5 separate regions of the Homo sapiens genome follow, and all the other regions are linked to region 2. Evidence: fine-mapped expression QTL. A gene starts in region 2. Each other region holds a variant in brackets. All regions are shown on one strand. Distances are from middle to middle.

Evidence for each region.
Region 1: its variant is fine-mapped to the expression of SLC7A8 in cerebellar hemisphere (GTEx, PIP above 0.99). The same link has a PIP of 0.9 or more in caudate, cerebellum, nucleus accumbens and putamen.
Region 3: its variant is fine-mapped to the expression of SLC7A8 in whole blood (TOPMed, PIP 0.97).
Region 4: its variant is fine-mapped to the expression of SLC7A8 in tibial artery (GTEx, PIP 0.90).
Region 5: its variant is fine-mapped to the expression of SLC7A8 in whole blood (TOPMed, PIP above 0.99).

Annotation. Positions count from the first base shown.
Region 1 is chr14:23,134,913-23,139,028 of GRCh38, forward strand. SLC7A8 (solute carrier family 7 member 8) reads right to left here. Exons shown (of 11, transcript NM_012244.4): 7 at 3,009-3,112. Among named protein-coding and RNA genes, the nearest start is that of CEBPE, 18 kb to the left of the region's middle. RefSeq lists a silencer at 2,688-2,982. The variant T/C (reference allele first, on the strand shown) is at 1,852.
Region 2 is chr14:23,181,879-23,185,994 of GRCh38, forward strand. SLC7A8 (solute carrier family 7 member 8) reads right to left here and starts at 1,782. Exons shown (of 11, transcript NM_012244.4): 1 at 886-1,782. The coding sequence starts at 1,036. It also overlaps a transcript of RNF212B not described here.
Region 3 is chr14:23,144,061-23,148,176 of GRCh38, forward strand. The region is part of intron 3 of SLC7A8 (solute carrier family 7 member 8); the gene reads right to left. Among named protein-coding and RNA genes, the nearest start is that of CEBPE, 27 kb to the left of the region's middle. The variant C/T (reference allele first, on the strand shown) is at 2,516.
Region 4 is chr14:22,900,130-22,904,234 of GRCh38, forward strand. It overlaps RBM23 (RNA binding motif protein 23), which reads right to left. Exons shown (of 14, transcript NM_001077351.2): 11 at 2,058-2,253; 12 at 1,851-1,970; 13 at 1,685-1,754; 14 at 1-1,604. The coding sequence ends at 1,601. Among named protein-coding and RNA genes, the nearest start is that of RBM23, 17 kb to the right of the region's middle. RefSeq lists enhancers at 1-328, 346-415. The variant T/C (reference allele first, on the strand shown) is at 2,273.
Region 5 is chr14:23,152,264-23,156,379 of GRCh38, forward strand. All of the region lies in intron 3 of SLC7A8 (solute carrier family 7 member 8), which reads right to left. It also overlaps the pseudogene RNU6-1138P. Among named protein-coding and RNA genes, the nearest start is that of SLC7A8, 29 kb to the right of the region's middle. The variant G/C (reference allele first, on the strand shown) is at 2,355.

The DNA.
Region 1 (4,116 bases), 47 kb before region 2:
TTTATTTTTTACTTATTTTTCTTTGCTAATTTTTTGTAGTGACAAGGTCTTGCCTTGTTGCCCAGGCTGGTCTGGAACTACTGGGCTCAAGCAATCCTTCCACCTTGCCTTCCCAAAGCACCGGGATTACAGGCGTGAGCCACCACGCCCAGCCCTAAAAGTTATTATTTTTTTAATATTTTTTATTTTTATTGAGACAGAGTCTTGCTCTGTTGCCCAGGCTGGAGTGCAGTGTCACGATCTCGGCTCACTGCAACCTCCGCCTCCTGGGTTCAAGTGATTCTTCTGCCTCAGCCTCCTGGGTAGCTGGGAGTACAGGCACCTGCCACCACGCTCAGCTAATTTTTGTATTTTTTTTAGTAGAGGTGGGGTTTCATTATATTGGCTAGGCTGGTCTCAAACTCCTGACCTTGTGATCCGCCCGCCTCAGCCTCCCAAAGTGCTGGGGATTATAGGTGTGAGCCACTGCGCCTGGACATAAAAGTTATTTTTAAAAAGAAAAGTTTTAGGCCAGGTGCGGTGGCTCACGCCTGTAATTCCAGCACTTTGGGAGGCTGAGGCGGGCGGATCACGAGGTCAGGAGATCAAGACCGTCCTGGCTAACATGGTGAAACCCCGTCTCTACTAAAAATACAACAAATTAGCCAGGCGTGGTGGCAGGCGCCTGTAGTCCCAGCTACTCGGGAAGCTGAGGCAGGAGAATGGCGTGAACCCGGGAGGCAGAGTGTGCAGTGAGCCAAGATTGCGCCACTGCACTCCAGCCTGGGCGACAGAGCGAGACTCTGCCTTAAAAAAAAAAGAAAAATTTTAAGAGAATAATTTGAATGTTCCTAGCATAAAGAAAAGACAATATTGAAGGAGATGGGATATCTCAATTACTCTGATTTGATTTTTACACATTATATCAATGTATTGAAACATCATCTGTAGCTTGAAAATATGTACATCTATTATATACATATGAATATGAAACTTGAACATAAAAATCAGCCCTCCTTCCCTTTTACTCTCCTAAGAGAAAAGTGAATATTAGAAGCTGTCAACAGTAATTTACATGTCAGTGCAAATTGGACCACTTTTTTCTTTTTTCTGGGGAAAGGCCCACCTAAGGGATGACAGGCAGGGTACAGCTTGATAGGAACAAAAAGGCACATATTCAGCACACTGGGAGTTCAGAGGAGAATAGTCATTTACTTTGTAATTTGTGTATGGAGTAGACTGAAGCGAACAGCAGCAGCTAATCAGAAGTGTGGGAGCTGACTGTATCCCCAAGTACCCATAAGCAGTAACCATCATGAACTCCCTAGGCCGGTGTCACTAGTTTCATGCAGCCATACACATCCCTGTCCCCTCTCCCATGCTACTGCCCCTCTACAGGGCAGTCTCATGCACCAGGTGCTCTGTGGGGCTCATCGTGCACATAGCCAGGGTCCTGCACTCACGTCCCCCCTCCACATGCAGACAAGACCAAGTGTAATTGTCCAGATCCAACAGCATTTGCAAGTGTCAGGTTCACAAGAGACAGTCCTTGCCCAGCTAGCCGATAACGGAGGAGACGATGACATTAAGCATAACACACATCCACACACTCTGACTCTTCAGGAAGGATCATCCTCTCCCTACCCGAGAACACAAAGGAGTGACAGAGAGATAAAGAAGGAGGGAAGGAGAAGGAAGGAAGAAGGAACTGGAAAGATGAGCAGGGGAGGCCTGGGTGGGTGAGGTCTGGCCTCTGAATCGGAGGTGGAGCACACCATGCGCCACCGTTTCCTGCATGCACACACGACTAGACCACATGCACGCAGACCGCTGCTAGGCCTGCCTGAGGGACAAACCCCACTCTAAAGTGAC[T/C]GTAGCCAGTCACTCTCCTCCAATAGATCTCAGGGAGCCTCACGGGTCACTGTTCCTCCACCGCTTGGCCTCGGCGGGGCCTCCGTGTGGCCACTGCTCCTGTGTAACATGCACACGAGGTTGCTGTGGGTGAGCGTCACAGGGTCCCGGGGTACAGGGGACACCCACACCACCTCTTTCCAGCCCTGGGTCCTAAAAACATTGCACTCCCTTGTTATTTCACAGGAACTCTTCCTGATGTGACGGCTTTGGAAGCAGCTGAACTCACGGACTCATCTTTGGAGCAGGACTGTACTTTCTGAGGGCAGGGGGTGCTTTCTAAGAACCTGGGAGGATCCCTTGAACCACACAAATGGAAGTCATTCAACATCTGCTAGCCTCAACAGCCCCTTCTGAAGACAGCAAAAGAAAGGGCCGGGTCCCTGGATGCATGGAGGCAGGACCTGGGACTCGTGGACCCGCTCGCACTTCTGGCTTCTGAGAGTGCTCTGGGGTGGGGGTCACGGATAAAAGGCTCTTTCTTTGGACAAATGTTTGCTTTCCACTTTTCCCCACCCTCTCACTTCACATTCTCCACCTGAGTCTCATGGGTGGCCTCAAAAAGGCCTCTACAGCCACCTCTCTGTTGAGCAGGGAGGAGCTCTGCATTCTTGGGGCAATCAGGGTGAAGCCATCCCACCTGCAGGCTAGTTCCAGAACATTCATGGGAGGCCAGACCCAGAGGCCCCAGGCACAAGTCTCCCTCTTGGTCCCTTTCCAAATGGGGTTCTTTTCTAGCCAGCAGCAGCCTGTTTACAGGTACAGGACTGCAGCCAAGATACTGCCTTGCTGCCAACCACAGCCACTGACTGGGGGCGGCGTCAGGCAGGCTGGCGGCCTCCTCTGTCTTCTGCTCCTTTTGAAATGAGACAGGCCACTACATGTGAAGCACCTAGGACCCGTATGCCACACACATCGCAGGTGACCACGTGAGCAGCACACACTCCTCAGCATCCACACTGACACACACGCCCTCATGTGAGCAGTCACCCCTCTGCAAGCCCAACATCCAGATGCCCACACAGACCCCTGCTGACAGAGACAAGCCCACCATATACAAATAGCAAAGTGCACAGCAGAGTGGCCCCTGGCCGGGGAAGGGCCCAGGCAGCACTCACCGAGAGGAGGTGAAGAGAGACCCATTAACTCCTCCAAATGTGGACAGGGCAACAGAAATGGGCATGATCCAGGCCATGACTCCTAGGAGCTTCTCTCCAAAAGTCTGGGAGAGGAACCAAGGAGATAAGCAAAGGAGAGGTCACCACTCCCCGACCCCTCAGCTCCCACTTCACTCTGGGAAACCGTTTCTCCTATCTCCACCCTTGCTAATTCTCTCTCGCCAAGCTTCTTAATTGCCCCCACCCTCTCAAGGGTGGACCCCTACACAGGGTGGTTAATGCATGTTTTAGGCTAATTAACTGAAGGAGGTAGTACACACTGGTAATAATAATAATGAACTAACACTTACTAATCTTGTTTTATGGGTGAGGAACTGAGTCACATAGTGATTAAGTAGCTTGCCTAAGATTACACACCCAGCGAGTGGAGGGGCCAGCATTGGAAGCCAGGTGGTGTGATCCAGGCCTTACATACATTATATGATTTCTCCAGCACAGGGAAGGGCACAGGCTTGTCAGGCAGATCTGTCAGGCAGATCCAGGCTCAAATCCTTGCCCTCCAGCTAGGAGCTGTGAGACCTTGAGCAAAGTTTATGATTTTTGAGCCTCTGTCTCCAACTGCAAAATAGGGATTAATCCAGAATCACAGGGTGAGAATTTCTCAATTCATCAAAACAGATGAGTTGGGGGTAAAATAATAGGAATGAGCCCCTCCTTAGTCTGAGAAAGAAAAGGCTGTGAAGCTATAGATGAATCTTCATGTATTTAAGGACTATACAATGCAGGAGACCAGCCTTTTCTATATTCCCTGAGCCAGGTTTACAGCACATTACCAAGGAGAGATTGTTCAGAATAGAAGGCTGTTGGTCATAAGAACAGGCTGCCCCAGGAGATGGGAGGACCTCTTTCTTTACAGTCTTTTGAGATAAGGCCAGTGAAGAGACTGGCAGGCTGGGTGGTGGCCCAGCCTGATGCCAGGTGAGGGAGCAAGGTGCCTCCCAGGTCCTTCTTAGATGTGAAGGATCCCAACCCCTTGCACCAGCATGGTCTCTTTCCCCAAAGAGCACACCTGACTTCTGCTTCTGGAGGAGAAGGCAGAGAGAAAAGG
Region 2 (4,116 bases):
ACGAAGCTGTATTTGGGACTCCTGCCCTGCAAAGTACATTCAGGGGGTTTGAGTGGCCTGCACTGGCACTCTTGGGGCCACCCAGGTTCCCCACCTTCAGCACCTCCCAGCTAGGACACATATTTTACCCATCAGTTCCTCCTCAACTCCATATTCTACACATTCTAGTTACTCCTGATTCCCTCTGAGAGCTTCACCGGGTCCTCCGTGGCTGTTAAGAAACAGGTGGACCCCACCAGGCAACTGGAGAAACTGCAAACTCTCCACTTACCGAGAGGCACAATCTGTCCCCTCTTTTCTTCCATAACTTCCCCATCTGTGAAATGGGAATAACAGCCCTGTCACAGCTACTTCACACAGTAAAAGTGCTGCATAAGGTGGAAAACGCTAAAATAAAAAGGCAGGGCATTGCTCTTGCTATTTTTAATACCTATCCCATAGTTTCATTTAACATAAAACTGCAAAATAGCTACCAAATATACCTTAAAAGCCCATCCCCAGCCTGGGAATAATAGCTGCATACAAACTTGTTCAGGTCCCTCAGTCCCTCCTTAAACCTATTGAACTAGAACCTCCAAGTGTCGAGACCAGGACCTGTATTTTTAAGGAGTTCCCAGGCAATGCTAATCATCAGCCGGGTTTCTGACCACGATTTGCTCCATTCTATGAACACTGGGCAGAATCTTTGCCTGGTTTGGAGGAAGAGATGTATGATGTATTTCCTATGCCTCTCAAACTTGACCAGTGGAGGTGAGTTACAGCTCAGGTGACTGACAATCCTTTTCTAAGGAATAGGAAGAACAATAATGCTTTCGAAGGGTTAAGATCTCACAGGAGGACCACCAGAGGGGAGAGGAGGGGTCCGCGGGAAGGAATGGAACTCACCTACGATGATACCACAGGCACTGACCAATCCGATCTCTTTCTTCAGGGCTACTCCGCCCCCTCCGGAACCAGCCTCGGGGCTGGCGTCCGACTCGCCCCCACCTGGGTGTTTCTTTTCGGTGTTGTTTCGGTGCCTGGCTCCTTCTTCCATCCTTCTCAGTAGGATTGCAACCTCAAAAGCTGCCTCCCTTTCTAAATGCGTATTCGTGTAAATATATTGGGAGAGAGCTTTGAATTAGAACGTCCTTTTCCGAAATAGGAACCACTGCTACTCTCTAAAAAAGGCAAGCAGATAAAAGAGAACACGAAAAATATTCCTACTCCGCATTCACACTTTCTGGTCACTCGCGTTTACAAACAAGAAAAGTGTTGCTAAAAAAAAAAAAAAAAAAAAAGGCCAGGGGAGACATACATTTAAATATAAAAATAGAACTGTGCCAGCGACTCCGGCTGGAATTCTGCTGAAAGGGATGTGTCTTCAGAAACCAGGATGGTTCTGCTCTGTGCACCAGGCAGTGGCTTATTCAGAAAGTGAGCCTGGATTTCCCTTCACCTCTCCCCCTAATAAAACAGGAGACTGCCTTTACCTCCCCTTAGTTTTTTCTTTTATGATGAAGACAAAAGTAGTTTTCATTAACGGTAGGAAAAAAGAGCAATCCTCAGGTACTTTCTTCTCTTCTAGAAAAACAAACTGTGAACCTGACGGTGTTGCTCTAGATCTGGTTTCCACCTGCTTTGGGTTTCTTTTCCCTTCCCCGTCTTCTGCTTCCGCCTTTCCCAGGTGTCCTCTTCTTTCTCGCTGGTCTTCGTGCCCTTGTTTTCCTCTTTTCGATCCCCGTTCTACTGCACAGCCGGCCCCATCCCTCTGGTTTCGGGAGAGTGGCTTCTCCACACACTAACGTGCTTCTCTTTAGCGAGGGGTTTTATTCGCCCGCCGAGGCTCCGCCCCTGCCTCCTCTGCTCCCCTCCATCCTCAGTCCCGTCTCCTCCCTCCTCTGCAATTTAAGTATTAGCACAAAGCCCCCAAACAGCACTGAGAAAATGGACTAAGTTATTTCTTTTTGCAATCGTCTCTCGCTTTCTCCATCTTTCTCCTTGCAACCAAGTGGAAGTAAACTCCTTCCACGTCAACTGTTCCGGGAGAGCTCATTAGCTAGTATAATGTTACAGGTCATACAGCATCTGTGAGCTTTATAAATCAGGGAACAGTTGTGCCGATACTTTTAATGCCATCAGAAATAAACTAGCCAATGTATTAAAAAATATTTAGGACTGGATCCTGTATTTGAGAATACAGGAGAGAACGTTGAAAGGACATCATCTTCGAGTTTCCTAAAAATAGGGGGAATCGACGGGTGGGGGAGGGAAATGGAAGGAATTAACAATGGGAAAAAGGTTCTTTTAGCGTAATTGTGAGCTACGAAGAGTACAGAGGAAACAAAATCGCCAGGCGCGGTGGCTCACGCCTGTAATCCCAGCGCTTTGGGAGGCTGACAGGGGAGGATCACGTGAGCCCAGGAGTCTGAGACCAGCCTGTGCAACAGAGCGAGACCCCGTCTACTAAAAATTTTAAAATTAGCCGGGTGCAGTGGTGCAGGCCTGTAGTCTTAGCTACTCAGGAGGCTGAGGCTGGAGGATTGCTTGAGCTCAGGAGGTCAAGGCTGCAGTGAGCTATGATGACGCCACTGCACTCCAGCCTGGGAGGTAGAGCAAGACCCTGTCTCAAAAACAAAACAAAACAAAAAGCCAGAAAAACCACATGCACATACAAAAAGATAAAAAACAAAATCACCAGGTAGCCTTGTTGTTCACAGCTCTTATTTAGGACTGGCTGAAACATGAAAAAAAATGACTCAAACCCTGATCCTGCAACTTCTAATATTTTTGCATTTATAAACTATTTGAAAAGCACACATGGGGAATTATCAGTATATCGCTGATCATGAAACATACTTGTTGATGTTAGAATAACTAGCTTATTACCATATCGAAATGATGCCTCCACTTTCTTGAAGAATTTCACTCAGAAACTGCTGCCTTAAGGTGAGAGCAACAATGTCTATTTATAATTGTAAATTATTTCGAAAAAACAGCATGAAGCAATATAGTGGACAACACTATAAGTCTAAAATAAAGTTATTTTTAGCCTTATTAAATATATTATGCAAAATTATTTAATTTTAAAGTGGGCCTAAAAAATTAAGTTCCCCCAAACTGACCCCTAACTACAAAAATTTGGCCTCACTTTCTGGAAAATGTTCCAAAAGATTTTGGGTTTTAAGGAAAATAAATACTTAATTCCTTAAAATGAGGTTTGTTGAGCTATCATAGCAAAAGCTTTTTCAAATGGGGTAAAGTCCAATCAGCAGTCATCTGCCCCCTTGATCACTCAGCAAGTATTAAGAGGTTTCAAAGGTTGGGAGGAACTTCCTCTCCTCCTTTTGCTAGTTCAAGACACAGCAAATTGAAAGACTCAGCAAAAAAAAAACAACAAACAACAACAAAAAAAACCAGACAAGGCAGGGAATATATAGCACGAAACTCCATGGGAGGGAATGAGTCATGGGAAATGAAAAAATGTCGAATTTGCCTCTAGCCTTTCCTGACAACCTTAGAAAGCACTGAGGAAAAATTTGATAGATTCATTTGTATACATTCAGATTTGAAGACTTCTGCTCCGATTTCAACATCACCATATAAAACAAATAATGTTTCTGCTTCTTAAACGTGAGTTCTTTCAGTAATATTTGGTAGTTCTAATTTATATGATGCAGACTTAATGTGGGATAAAACATGAATGTGATGAATTTGAGGTCTCTTGCTAAAACCAGTGCAAACTGATAACGATATGGTAAGCTTTAGCCCTCTCAAATTATGAACTAAGAAGCTAAGGGGGTTATGGGATCAAATACGTTCTTGGAATACAGCGGTACTAGGTGCACACGTTGGAAAGGAAGAGTTGCTGAAGATTAGTATTTCTATTTCTTTAGCACTTGGAATTTATAAGTGGCTTATTACCATTGATTACTGGTGCGATGTAATATCTAGGAAAGGGGCTGGGCACGGTGGCTCATGCCTGTAATTCCAGCACTTTGGGAGGCCGAAGCAGGTGGAGTGCTTGAACTCAGGAGTTCAAGACCAGACTGGGCAATGTGGTGAAACCCCATCTCTACAAAAAATACAAAAATTAGCTGGGTGTGGTGGCTCACGCCTGTAATCCCAGCTACTCAG
Region 3 (4,116 bases), 38 kb before region 2:
TCACAGTGTGGGACTATTATGAATAGAGTTGTGATAAATACTTGTGTAGATGTCTTTTTTCTTTTTGTGGATTGTAGAGATCTTTGAGTGGGGTTTTCATTGCTCTTGAGTAAATCCCCAGGAATGAGATCCTGGGCCATAGAGTAAATGTGTTTAACTTTCTAAGAAACTGCCAAACTGTCTTCCACAGTGGCTGTCTCATTTTGCATTCCTACTCTCATGTCAGAGTTCCTGTTGCTCTGTATCTTTCCCAGCATTTGGTATTGTCAGTTTAAACACAATTTTTTTTTTTTTTTTTTTTTTGGCTAATAGGCATGTAGTTGTATTTCATTATGGTTTTGATTTGCATTTCCCTAATGGCTAATGATGTTGAGCAACTCTTCATGTGCTTATTTACCATCCATTTACAAATCTTCTTTGGTGGCATGGGGAGTTGTAATTCTCTACAAAAAATTTTAAAAATAAGCTGGGTGGTGTGGTCGCTCTGACTTCACTTGAATGGCTGATCAAGTTTTATCAGTACCGTATTCTTATATGGTACTTCTACTTTCCAAGTATTTCCCAACCTTATTTGATGCTGAGAACATTTGGTTAGGGTAGGATGGTCCTGACATTAACCGTCTGTAACCTTCCTTTGTGCGCCATCTCCACCTGGCAAACCCCTTCTCCTCTTTCAAGATCCAGCTTAAATGTCACCTGTTCTGTGAATCTCTATAATTCAGCATGTTATTTATTCCTAACAACATGCCTGCAAGGGAAGATATATCAGCTGTGTTTTGTAGACGAGGAACAAAGTTTGTTCCTTCTCTCTAGAACAATCCCAGACCACTTTGTTTATATCTAATGTTGGGATGTATTTCTTTTTTCTTTTTCTTTTTTTTTTTTTTTCTGAGACGGAGTCTCACTCTGTCGCTCAGGCTGGAGTGCAGTGGCGCGATCTCGGCTCACTGCAAGCTCTGCCTCCTGGGTTCACGCCATTCTCCTGCCTCAGCTGGGACTACAGGCGCCCGCCACCACACCCAGCTAATTTTTTGTATTTTTAGTAAAGACAGGGTTTCACCGTGTTAGCCAGAATGGTCTCGATCTCCTGATCTCATGATCCTCAGCCTCCCAAAGTGCTGGGATTACAGGCAGGAGCCACCGCCCGGCCGGGATGCATTTCTTTGTATTAAAATGACCTGCTTCTGGCCGGGCATGGTGGCTCACGCTTGTAATCCCAGCACTTTGGGAGGTCAAGGTGGGCAGATCATGAGGTCAGGAGTTCGAGACCAGTCTGGCTAACACAGTGAAACCCGTCTCTACCAAAAATACAAAAATTAGCTGGGCGTGGTGGTGGCGCGCCTGTAATCCCAGCTACTCAGGAGGCTGAGGCAGGAAAATCACTTGTACCCGGGAGGCGGAGGTTGCAGTGAGCCGAGATTGTGCCAGTGTTCTCCAGCGTGGGTGACAGAGCTAGACCACATCTCAAAAAAAAAAGAAAAAAAAATTTTTTTTTTTTTAAGACACCAAGGGCAAGTAAATGTTTTCATGTTTTTAAATCTCAGGACTTATCATTGGCGCCTGCAAATAGTAGATGCTCAGCAAGTATTTAATAAATGAATTTTAAAATATCACAATTCATTAGCCTTCCAATATCATCTCAGTCTACACATTCCACAGCGCACATCAACCTCTTCTGCTCCCCAGGAACCCCATCAAAAGGAGACACAATCCCTAGTTGGCTTCATGTTGCCAAAGGGCAACAGGGAACTTGACTTCAAGAGCAGAAGCTCCTGACTCCTCATGGAAGAGCTATTATCCAAGATGATGTCATGCAAGGAGAAGCAAAACATGTTGTCAGAGGAAGGATTTTAAGTGCCCGAGCAGGGAGAACACTTTGTAAATACTCAAATGTTCCAGACGGACTGACATCCTGATAAATACACATTTGGTTTGTCTTACTCAATTCAATAAGGATTTCAGGATCATGTGCCTGGTGACAAGCCAACCTAAGTCACTCTAAACAACTGGGTCTGTGATCTCAGCTTCTTCCCTAGGCCCCAAGGCATGCAAGGTACAAGGCTGCGCCCCTTCACCCAGGAATTCAGGCAGACACAGCAGTAACTCAAGGATAAAGGAGATTGATAAAAGGAAGGAAGGAAGATTAGGAAACAAACCCCATAAGCCTCAGGGATAGGTAAGGATTACACAACAAGGAACTGGATCTTGATCTCAGGGAAGAAAATCCTTCTCCAAGGGGAGGAGAGGGGAGGGCGAGGAAATGACAGAAAGTGCTTGAGGAAAATAAGGGCAGAGCAGGACAACTCAAAGAAATTCCTCCTCCCCCAAGCAGACCACCTCCCTGTGTGCTGGGAAAGAAAACATGAAATCATCTCTTTACAAGATGGACCTTACTGAGTCACAGAAAGACACCTTCAAACTATCAGCTCTGTGGTCTTCCTGGGGTAACAGAGATAGGGATGCTTTGTAAAATAACCTATCTGTGGCTATCTTCTGTCTTGCCTAACCTTATCTC[C/T]ATCACTTCCCAAGAACTCAGCCCTTGACTAATATTTAACCTTTCACCTTCACAGTAATCTTTCAGAAACAAGAAGAAATTCTGAGAATGAGGTGGGGATAGGCAGGCTGCCTGTGACACCTAATCTCCTTGGAACAATGGCTGCAGGCCCCAGATCTGGCCCTTCACCCTGCAGTTGGGTGATCATACCATGTGACTGAGGGGAAAGAGGGTATCAGTCTCCTGGTACCACAAGACAGCTTCCCTCACAGCAGGCTGAAACCTGAGCCTCCACCCAGAGAGGAAAGGTCAGTGGGTGCTCGCCAAGCTCCTGCCCCGGTCAGGAGCCCTGCTGCTGGCTAGCTACTGCTTGGCACTTGTCTGTTGCGGACGATGATATTCTAGAACCCTCTCTTCTCGGCTAGACCCTGAATTCCGCATTCCTGAGACACAGTGACCTCAGGGAAGCCACATGTAGATGAGGATCATTGGCCATAGCAGCTTTGAAATGTGAGGGGCTTTTTATCCATCCATCCATCCATCCATCCATCATAGATCCATTCACCCATCCACCCATCTAGCCATCATCCATGCATCCATCCACCCACCCATCTATCCATCTATCATCCATCCATCCACCCACCCATCCAACCATCCATCATCTATCCATCCATCCATCTGTCTATCCATCCACCCATCTACTCATCCGTCATTCATGCAGGGCCTACATGTACTAGGCATTCTAGCTGGTGGGGAGGTTATTGATAAGACACAAGTCCCTGCCTTTAGGAAGTTGGCAGTATAACAGGGACGACGGGTGAAGTAAGAGATGCCCACAAAACAACGAGGTGATGGCAAAGCTATTCACGGAAGCTAGTGGGCATCTATGAGGAACCACTAACTCAGCCCAGGGGAATCAGAGATGCCTTCTATAGGAGGAGGAGACCCTGGCAACATGGAGAAATTTATAATCCTGGTCCAACTGGACAAAATAAAAAGTCATAAGACTGGTTCTTGTCCGTTGTAACCTAGTTGCGGGAGTGGTTACTGCTTCTTTAGAGGCCCTCATGGAATTCCAGGCTTGTATGTATTTTTTGGGCATTTCCTCCCCTCTTTCTTTCTTGCTTCCTGGGTAAAAAATAAGATGAAAGACTATTAAGAAGACAAGAGTTCAAGAAGATGCTGAAGTCAGGGGCTGGTTACTTAATCCACCCAGTTTGAAGAACTCAACATCAAGGTGACAGAAGAGATACAAATAATGAGTCAGGCAGGAGGAGGAAAACTCAGATTCTAGCAACCTGGAACACTGCCCAGAGTCCAGGGCCTCCCAGCTGCCAAGCAGGAGAGATGGGCTCAATGCTTTCTGCAGGACTGGCAGAGGGATTCAGAGTCCTCGCTGCAGACCTGCAACTGGCTTGCTCACTGTGGAGGGCTGGGTTCCCTACAGAGAAGGTGCCCTCAGCCCCATCCCAGCTCTGATCCCAGACTTTGATCTCCAGGAATTACAGAAGTCTCTCCTTCACTTCCTCCCCTTGGCAATGACAGCATATCTCTTTGGGATGGGGGGCAGTTGAAGGCAGAATTATGGCCATCCAAGATATCAACGTTCTAATCCCTGAGAT
Region 4 (4,105 bases), 280 kb before region 2:
GGAAAGCAGGAGTTGAGGGGACTGACAGAGGAACAACAGTAGACATCAGGTCAGGAGAACCCTGCTGTTATACAAGACCCAAACCCCTTTGGATATTGGATTGGGATCGCTACTACAAAGAGGGTCAAAGGCAGGTACAAAGGCCAATAGAGTTAAGAAAGCTCAGCTTAGCTCTGGTACTTAACTCTTCAAGATCACAACCCCCCCCCCTCCCCGCCCCGCCCCACTAGAAAAAAACAAGTGTAGAATGCAGTACTGTCATAGTGCCATCTGCTGGAAAGATCTGTCATTAGGCACAGAGAAGGAGCCTGTTAAGTCTAAGTCTGTCCTGGTGCTGCAACTTGGCTGTTTGGGTAATTCTGTCCAGTGGGTAGCTGGGATGGAGATAGTTAGGATGAAGATAGATGGAGAAGACAACCATAGATCAACAGTGTAATGCAGATACAGAATGGGAACCCCACCCAGGTGTGAGTTTTCATTTTTCTTTCTAAAGGTGGTTAAATAAATAAACACAATGATGTTACTAATGTTTTATATCCCTAGAAACATCATAAGTTGGGCTAATGAGAAGTTGTCAGACACACAACAAAGACCACACACAAATGGGCAACAGCTGCCACAAGGAGGAGGCTTGCCTTTTGTACAAAGTTTTTATGTATATATATATGTATATATATTTATGTACACAGACACAAGGGTATAAAATCCAGTGAGAAGGGCTCACACATGCCCAGGTAAGGGATGGGAGTAGCTATAATTGCCAGGGTTGAGGCCACAGTAGAGGCACACAGGAAGTGGTAGAGTAGCAGCCTCCCTCCATCCTCCTACCTCGGGCCAAAGGGAGGAAATGGGAGGAAGGACAAGTATACAAAGGAAGATGGAAGATACTGGAAAGGCATACTCCACCTTTTACTAAATTCCTGAAAGCCCCTAAATGCCTCACAGGACAGATCACTCTCACACCTCCTGGCAGGACAGATCACTCTGAGGCCTCCTGGCAGGATAGATCACTTCCATGCCTCCTAGCAAGATGCTGAGGCTACAGTAGGTCTGGCCTCAAGCTGCTTCAAGCTAAGGTCTGAGGCTGGCTTCTCAATGCACGTCCATGCTATCTCCCAGGGCCCTTGTAGCAGAAAGAGCACCTTCAAGGTTCACCCACAAACTCAGTCCTCTTGATTCAGAGGTCCTAAGGGTTTTCCTTGACAGACTAAAGGTTAAAGGTACAGGAAAAGGAGAGAGGTCAGTTCCTTCAGTATGCCCTATGGCCTTCCCAATGGGGGAGAAATTGAGGAATCACTAAGGTGTTGGAAAGGGCAAGAAGGTAATCTCAGAGACGATACACATGGAGAAACAGGTATTCAATGCAGGTGTGGATTCTGTTCTCTTCAACTGGTGGCTTTGCTCAGCAGAGTCCATTTCCAGTGGGACCATGGGCAGGAGCTTTTCTTGGTATCTTAAGGGTGGCCCCAATTTCCTCAGAGACAATGTCCATGCCCTCAGGATGGCTTGGTCCACAAAATGGAGAAATGGGGCCATGGAAGAGTAGATGTGAAGTGGCAGGATCCAGAGGCACAAGGAGGCAGTATACTGTGCCACTGATTTACCTGTGGAAAGAAGAGGTAAATGGGAAGCCAAAGGAAAGAGAATAATCAAAGGCTAGAATGAGCTAGACCCTGAGACTCACATGGTCTGGGGGGTAAAGAGGCTGGAGAGCTGGAAACACTGGGAGGCAAGGTTCAGGGCTGGACTCAGAGCTAGAACAAAGACAGGCAGAGTGAGTGAGCAAGCACCGCGCACTCCTTCTTTCCAGACCCCCAAACCTTCCCTTCCTTTCCCATGTCCAAGACTACCAGTCAGAGCTGCTGGATTCAGGGCCCCCAAGGGAACTGCTCCATTCAGTTGCAAGGCAGCAGCCTGGGCGGCGGCGGCAGCAGCAGCAGCAGCAGTGCTTGGCAGTTGGATTCCAGCGCCTAAAAGGAAAAGAAAAGGTGGGATTAAGCCCCAACCCTTCATCTAAAATTCAACCCCATAATCTTCACCTTGCGGAGATATTTTACCTTCTGCCAGTTTTGCCATGAGCTGAAAACGTCCACCTGCTGATCCCAGATCCAGCTCCTGGTCCCCATCAGGAAAAGTGATGTCTGTGCCACCATCCAGTCGCTCAGTCACATGGCCAACCCTCATAGGTCGACCAGCAAGCTCAAACCCATTCAACTGTTCCAGGGCCCGCCGGGCACACTCAGAATCAGAGAACTATGAGAAACCCAGGCCA[T/C]GTTAGTCACCTACTCACCAAAGACATGCTCTCAAAGACCCAGTAACACTCCCTAGTCCTACTATCCCAGGAAAATTGTATGCTCACTGAGGTACAAACTTTTCTTTCCCAGAAAATATGACCTAGGCCCATCACCTCAAAATGGTTCTCTGAAAAGGACCTTTTCCAATGGACTCAATGGCAGTCACTTTTCAATCTTTCAGCTCCATTAAGAATCTAACAATGCAAAATTTTATTATTGTAGGAAACCTAGCCTGACAAGTTATTTCACAAATGGGTATATCAAATGGAAGACAAGCTAAGAACAAGGCTCCTGGGCTTTTAATTCAGTTCTCTATCCTAGTAAGTTTTAGTCTTTTTTTTTTTTTTTTTTTTTTTTTTTTGAGACGGAGTCCCACTCTGTCACTCTGTCACTGAGGCTAGAGTGCAGTGGCACCATGTCAGCTCACTACAACCTCCATCTCCTGGGTTCAAGCAATTCTCCTGCCTCAGCCTCCCGAGTAGCTGGAATTACAGGCACCCACCACCATGCCCAGCTAGTTTTTTTATTTTTATTTTTTAGTAGAGATGGGGTTTCACCACGTTGGTCAGGCTGGTCTCGAACTCCTGACCTCAGGCGATTCACCCACCTTGGCCTCCCAAACTGCTGGGATTACAGGTGTGAGCCACCGCGCCTGGCCAAATTTTAGTTAAGTACTAGGAATCTGGAACTCCTAATTCCAGGCTTAAGAGGGAACACACCCTAGTGCTGACAGCAAGGCAGAACCCACACCCCCACATACACACAAGAGCTGTTGACTAAGTGACCTGCTGACCAGAAGGCCTTTACTCTCTAGTCCCTTTTATCAGCAGCACCCAGCAACACACTGGTACAAAGAGGATTCCCAGTCTGCTGTTTGTTTAAGTGTCAAGGTTGTTGACCCAAAAGGCAACAATGCAAGGGCAAAAATGCCCCACAGAAGCCTTTCCATATCTCAGTCACACAGAGAGCGAGAAAAGGTTACAAAAGTTACTTGCCACCACAGAATTGTCAACACCACAGCTAGCTTGTTTAGCTAGCTAGCAGCATTACCTGCCTTAGGGCCTGGCATGTGGTACTGACAGTTCCTAGGCAGGTGTTATACATGGCTTGCCTTTACTGGATATTTTTGAGGTGAGCAATTCCAATGACAGAATACAACCTACTGCCCTCTGCCCTGTGGGTCACTGTGGGAGTGTATGCTGCCTGGTTTAAGCCCAGAAAATACAAGCTTCTATCAGACTTTGTGGCTGGCAGCCAGTTCTCAGCCTGGAGTCACATGGGGCTGGAAGAACCAGTTATAGGAATTGGCAACCATTTTGTTGGAATGTCAGGAAAAGGTGAAGCTTGCCCATAATTAGGTGGCCTCACTATTCTCCCCATAGTGCTACGTTAATAACTGATCCTTCTCGGTGCAGAAATTGCTTCAAATGGGGTAGCACCAGAGGGAAGTATAATTTCCTATTCCCATCCCTGTTATGAGAAACATCAATTCTATAAAGCATGTCTTTAAAAGCCCATACCTAACCTCCCTCACACCCCCAACCTTTTAGCTGCAGCCTGGTTACTATTACCCAAAGAGCCAAGTTGCAGCACCAGGGAAGCTGGGTGAACTCCTGAACACCCCCATACCAGGGCCACTGACAGAGTGTAGGAGCAAAGCCAAGATCTCAAGCAATGCACTCATCTCAAGGGGTAGAAGGCTAGTCCAAGCTTCAGGCACCAGGGTTTATGGGTCATTTAGACAGTTCCTAAAGGAGGAGGATGAAGCTAAGCTGCAAAATCAGACAAGTGGACAAACCCAAAGTAAAATA
Region 5 (4,116 bases), 30 kb before region 2:
GGACCACAGGCATGTGCCACCACGCCCAGCTAATTTTTTGTATTTTTGGTAGAGATGGGGTTTCGCCATGTTGCCCAGGCTGGTCTTGAACTCCTGAGCTCTAGCAATCTGCCCACTTTGGCCTCTCAAAGTGCTGGGATTACAGGCATGAGCCACCAATGTTTTCTTTTTTTTGAGACAGGGTCTTACTCTGTCATCCAGGCTGGAGTGCAGTGGCATGATGATGGCTCACTGCAGTCTCAACCTCCCCAGACTCAGGTGATCCTCCCACCTCAGCCTCCTGAGTAGCTGAGGTGTGTGCCACCAGGCCCAGCTAATTTTTGTATTTTTTGTAGAGACGGGTTATGCCAGGTTGCCCAGGCTGGTCTCTAGAACTCCTGGGCTCAAGTGAGCCACCTGCCTTGGCCTCCCAAAGTGCTGCGATTACAGGCATGAGCCGCCACACCCGGTGATGTTTTCAGGTGCTCCCTTGCTTTGGATACAGGACTCTGGCTTCTCATTGAGCTGGGCCAGCAGGGGGTCATTTTGTGCCTCCCTCAGGGAGCCAATGAACATTCCCACATGGATCCCTGAACCAATCTCATTTCTTCTACTAAGCCAGCTGCCACTCGATGAGCCACACTATTCTGGTCTGACAGGGTAAAGGTTGGGATAGGGCCACCTGGATACGGGGCTGGATTGGTTGTTATAAGGACAGTGCTAAGAAGAATGAACCAGTTGGGACTCTCCTTGTAGTCAACTCTTGGCCCTAGAGGTAAATATTTGAAGCCTGCGCCCTACCACCCAAGGCTTGTGTCCAGCCTCATGGGTGATCAGAAGGCAGGAATGACCTTAGAGACCCAGAACCTCATTTTATTTTTCTTTTACAGATGGGAGTCTCATTCTGTCGCCCAGGCTGAAGTGCAGTGGCATGATCATAGCTCACTGCAGCTTCCCAGTCCTGGGCTTGAGCGATCTGCCTGACTCGGCTTCCCAAAGTGCTAGGATTACAGTTGTGAGCCACCATGGCGGCCCCAGAACCTCATTTTATATGTGAGTGAATTTAGACCCCAGCTAATTCGCAGCAAAGACCAGACTGGGACAGCCCAATTCCCAGTTGCTTGTTCTGCCTCTGCCCCGCCTTCCTTCATTATACACAGATCACTCTGCTTTCCCTTGGCCGCTCCCACATCATCTCTCCTCCTGCTTGGGTCAGTGGTACCCATGGTCACTACTGCCAGTGCCACTTGGGACTCTGGGTCTGTCACCAAGACACTGGTTAGCCCCAGCCTGGACTGCTTTCTGTGCAGCAGGAAGGAAGATGCCAATATGGCAAAAGGGGAAGACTTTCACAGTTATGCCTCAGAAACCAAGAAAGGTGCATCCATTGCTCCCAGGGCTTTAGAAAGTCATTTCCCACAGGGATCTCCACCTTGGGTCCCCTCCCACCAGCCCCCTTAATCAATGTCACAGTCACATGTTCCCTCCAAACTCCCGGAACTCCATTTGGATTTCTCGGTCTCGCTGGCTTGCACCTTTCTCAGGAGTGGACTGGACTGGCTTGGAAAGGCTTGGTTTTCCTTTAACATTTCCAGAACCAGGCCACTCCTCCTTGTCTGTTCAGATAAGTGAAAACAGGCAGTAGAAAGGGGGAAAAATGTCCAGACTTGCCAAAGTCCATAAAGACAGATGGTGAAGAAGAGAGGGAAAGAGCACAAGAAACCACAGGGCGGGAGAGAGCAAGGGGAGGACAATGCAGATGAGTGGGAGAGAAAAAGGGCTTGAGAGGAGCAGAACAGAGAGAGGCCAGGACTGAAAACAGCAAGATGGAATGTACTAAGCAGACGGTTGCTGAAAAAGGAAGCAGTGACGCCACTTTGTAGAAATCAGAACGCCCTGTTCCTCTCCAAACCTGCAAAACAGGCACCTTTCTGGATGGAGCTCCCCAGCCCTCTGAAACGCCATAAATTTCACCTGGGTCATGGCCTGCCAGAAGGGTTGGCTTCTCAGCCTCACCTTTTGCTGGGGCGTTCACTTCTCTGCCTTCTGCCACGCTCTGGCCAGCTCCCACAGACTCCCTCCCCTCCAGCTGGAGCAAAAGGGGTGAGGCATGTCCCTCCCAGCAGCCCTCTGGGTCTGGGTGCCCAGGCTGGAGGTTGGAGCCGCTGGGCAGGGAAGCCGGGCCTGTGGGGGCGTGGGTGTGGCTACGCTCGGCTCTGTGATTGGCTGCACCGAGTTCCTTGGCCGCCTCCCCCGCTTGTGGAAGGAACTGAGCACGTGTTTCTAATTGTGGAAAAGCCGCTTCGGCTTGGCCTGTCCAACCGCAGGCGTTTCCAGATCTAGGAGGTAAGCAGTGCCGGCTGCCAAAAGGCGCT[G/C]ATAGGCAAAGAAAACACGGAGGCCTGTTTGACCTCTAACGCACACAACCCAAGGCTCTGATAAGGTTCCAGTTCTGCCCACGCAGGCCACACGGAACAGTCTTTCCTCGTCAAAGACCCAGAGAGGCCTGGAGGTGTGGGGGAGTGGGCAGACACGGATCCAGCTTCACAGAACCCTCCTAGAATCCTTCTCTATTCCCCGCCCACCCCCACCTCAAGACATTTTTTAGAGCGGGTGAGGGGCCCACATTATAAAGTCCTTCCGCACCTGGATTATTGTACATGTAACATAACTTGTCTGATAAAGTTATACATATAACTTGACTGGTGAAAGAGAAAAACGTTAAAAAAAAAAAACCCACAAAAAGCCACACAACAGACAAAAAAAAAAAAAAAAAAAAATCAAAGCAGCCCTTCCTCATAAACTGCGCTTTGATCCCAGCTTCTATAAAGTGCACAGTGGGGAGTGTGGTTTTGAAACAGATCTTGCCTATCGCACGATAGTAACATTTCCCCTTCTCCAGCCCTTTTCATCTCGAAGCACTTACAACGTTTTAGAAATCTCGGAACCCCCTCCAAAGGAGAGGAGGTGCTCTGAGCCTTCCGGAAGGGCCTCTCTCTTCCAAGGACACACCAGCAGAGGAGGAGGGTGCAGAGAAGCTGTGAGGGCTGTGAGTGCTCCTGGAGGCACACAGCTTTTACCAAACACTTCCAGCTAAGCTCCTGCCCATACTGCCCCATCCCCTCCCCTCCTCCCTTCCTGGCTCTCTCTTCCCCTTCCTTCTTATCCTGTTAGCTCCTGCGCCAGCTGCTGGAGCTGGGGTTTCTGCTGAATCACCACCCAGTATTTAGCTCAGCCAAGAGGCAGGAATACCCAGCTCAGCATTTTCCAAGAGCTGAGTAGTTCTCTCTTCAGCATGAGCTAAACATGGCTCCTCAGCTGGCCTGGATCGGGGAGAAGCGAAAAACTGGACACCAAGAAATCCAGGGTGGCCTGCCATGCCACCCTGGGGAACCCTATTTTAATCCTACTCATTACTTTTTCAGCCTGGGCCTGAAAAATTGCTATCTCACACACCAATTCTCAGGGCTGATGTCCCCCGAGACATGGAGCAAGGTGGATGAGAATGGGTTCTGTTGAGTCTGCACTGAGCCCAGGAGGGCTAGCCTGACCCTCCATCATATTTCAGTCTTGGAAGACAGGGTGTGGATCCTGTGAGGTTTAGTTGGTTCTTGGACCAGAAGGCTTGTAGGCTCTGTTGGTGTTCACTAAATTCTATAAACCTGGACCCAGGCTGCAAAATTCCCCCAAAACGGTTCAGTTATAACCCAATTCCAAGGGTAGCTTGTACTTAAACTTGCTGAACTCTTTTTTCTTTTCTTTTCTTTTTTTTTTTTGAGATGGAGTTTCGCTCTTGTTGCCCAGGCTGGAGTGCAATGGCACGATCTCGGCTCACCGCAACCTCTGCCTCCCGGGTTCAAGCGATTCTCCTGCCTCAGCCTCCCGAGTAGCTGGGATTACAGGCATATGTCACCACGCCCGGCTAATTTTGTATTTTTAGTAGAGACAGGGTTTCTCCACATTGGCCAGGCTGGTCTTGAACTCCCGACCTCAGGTGATCCGCCCTCCTCGGCCTCCCAAAGTGCTGGGATTACAGGAATGAGCCACTGCGCCCGGATATTTTTCTCTTTTTAATAAGGAACACTTTGTGAATTTGCATGTCATCTGTACATGGGGCCATGCTAATCTTCTCTGTACTGC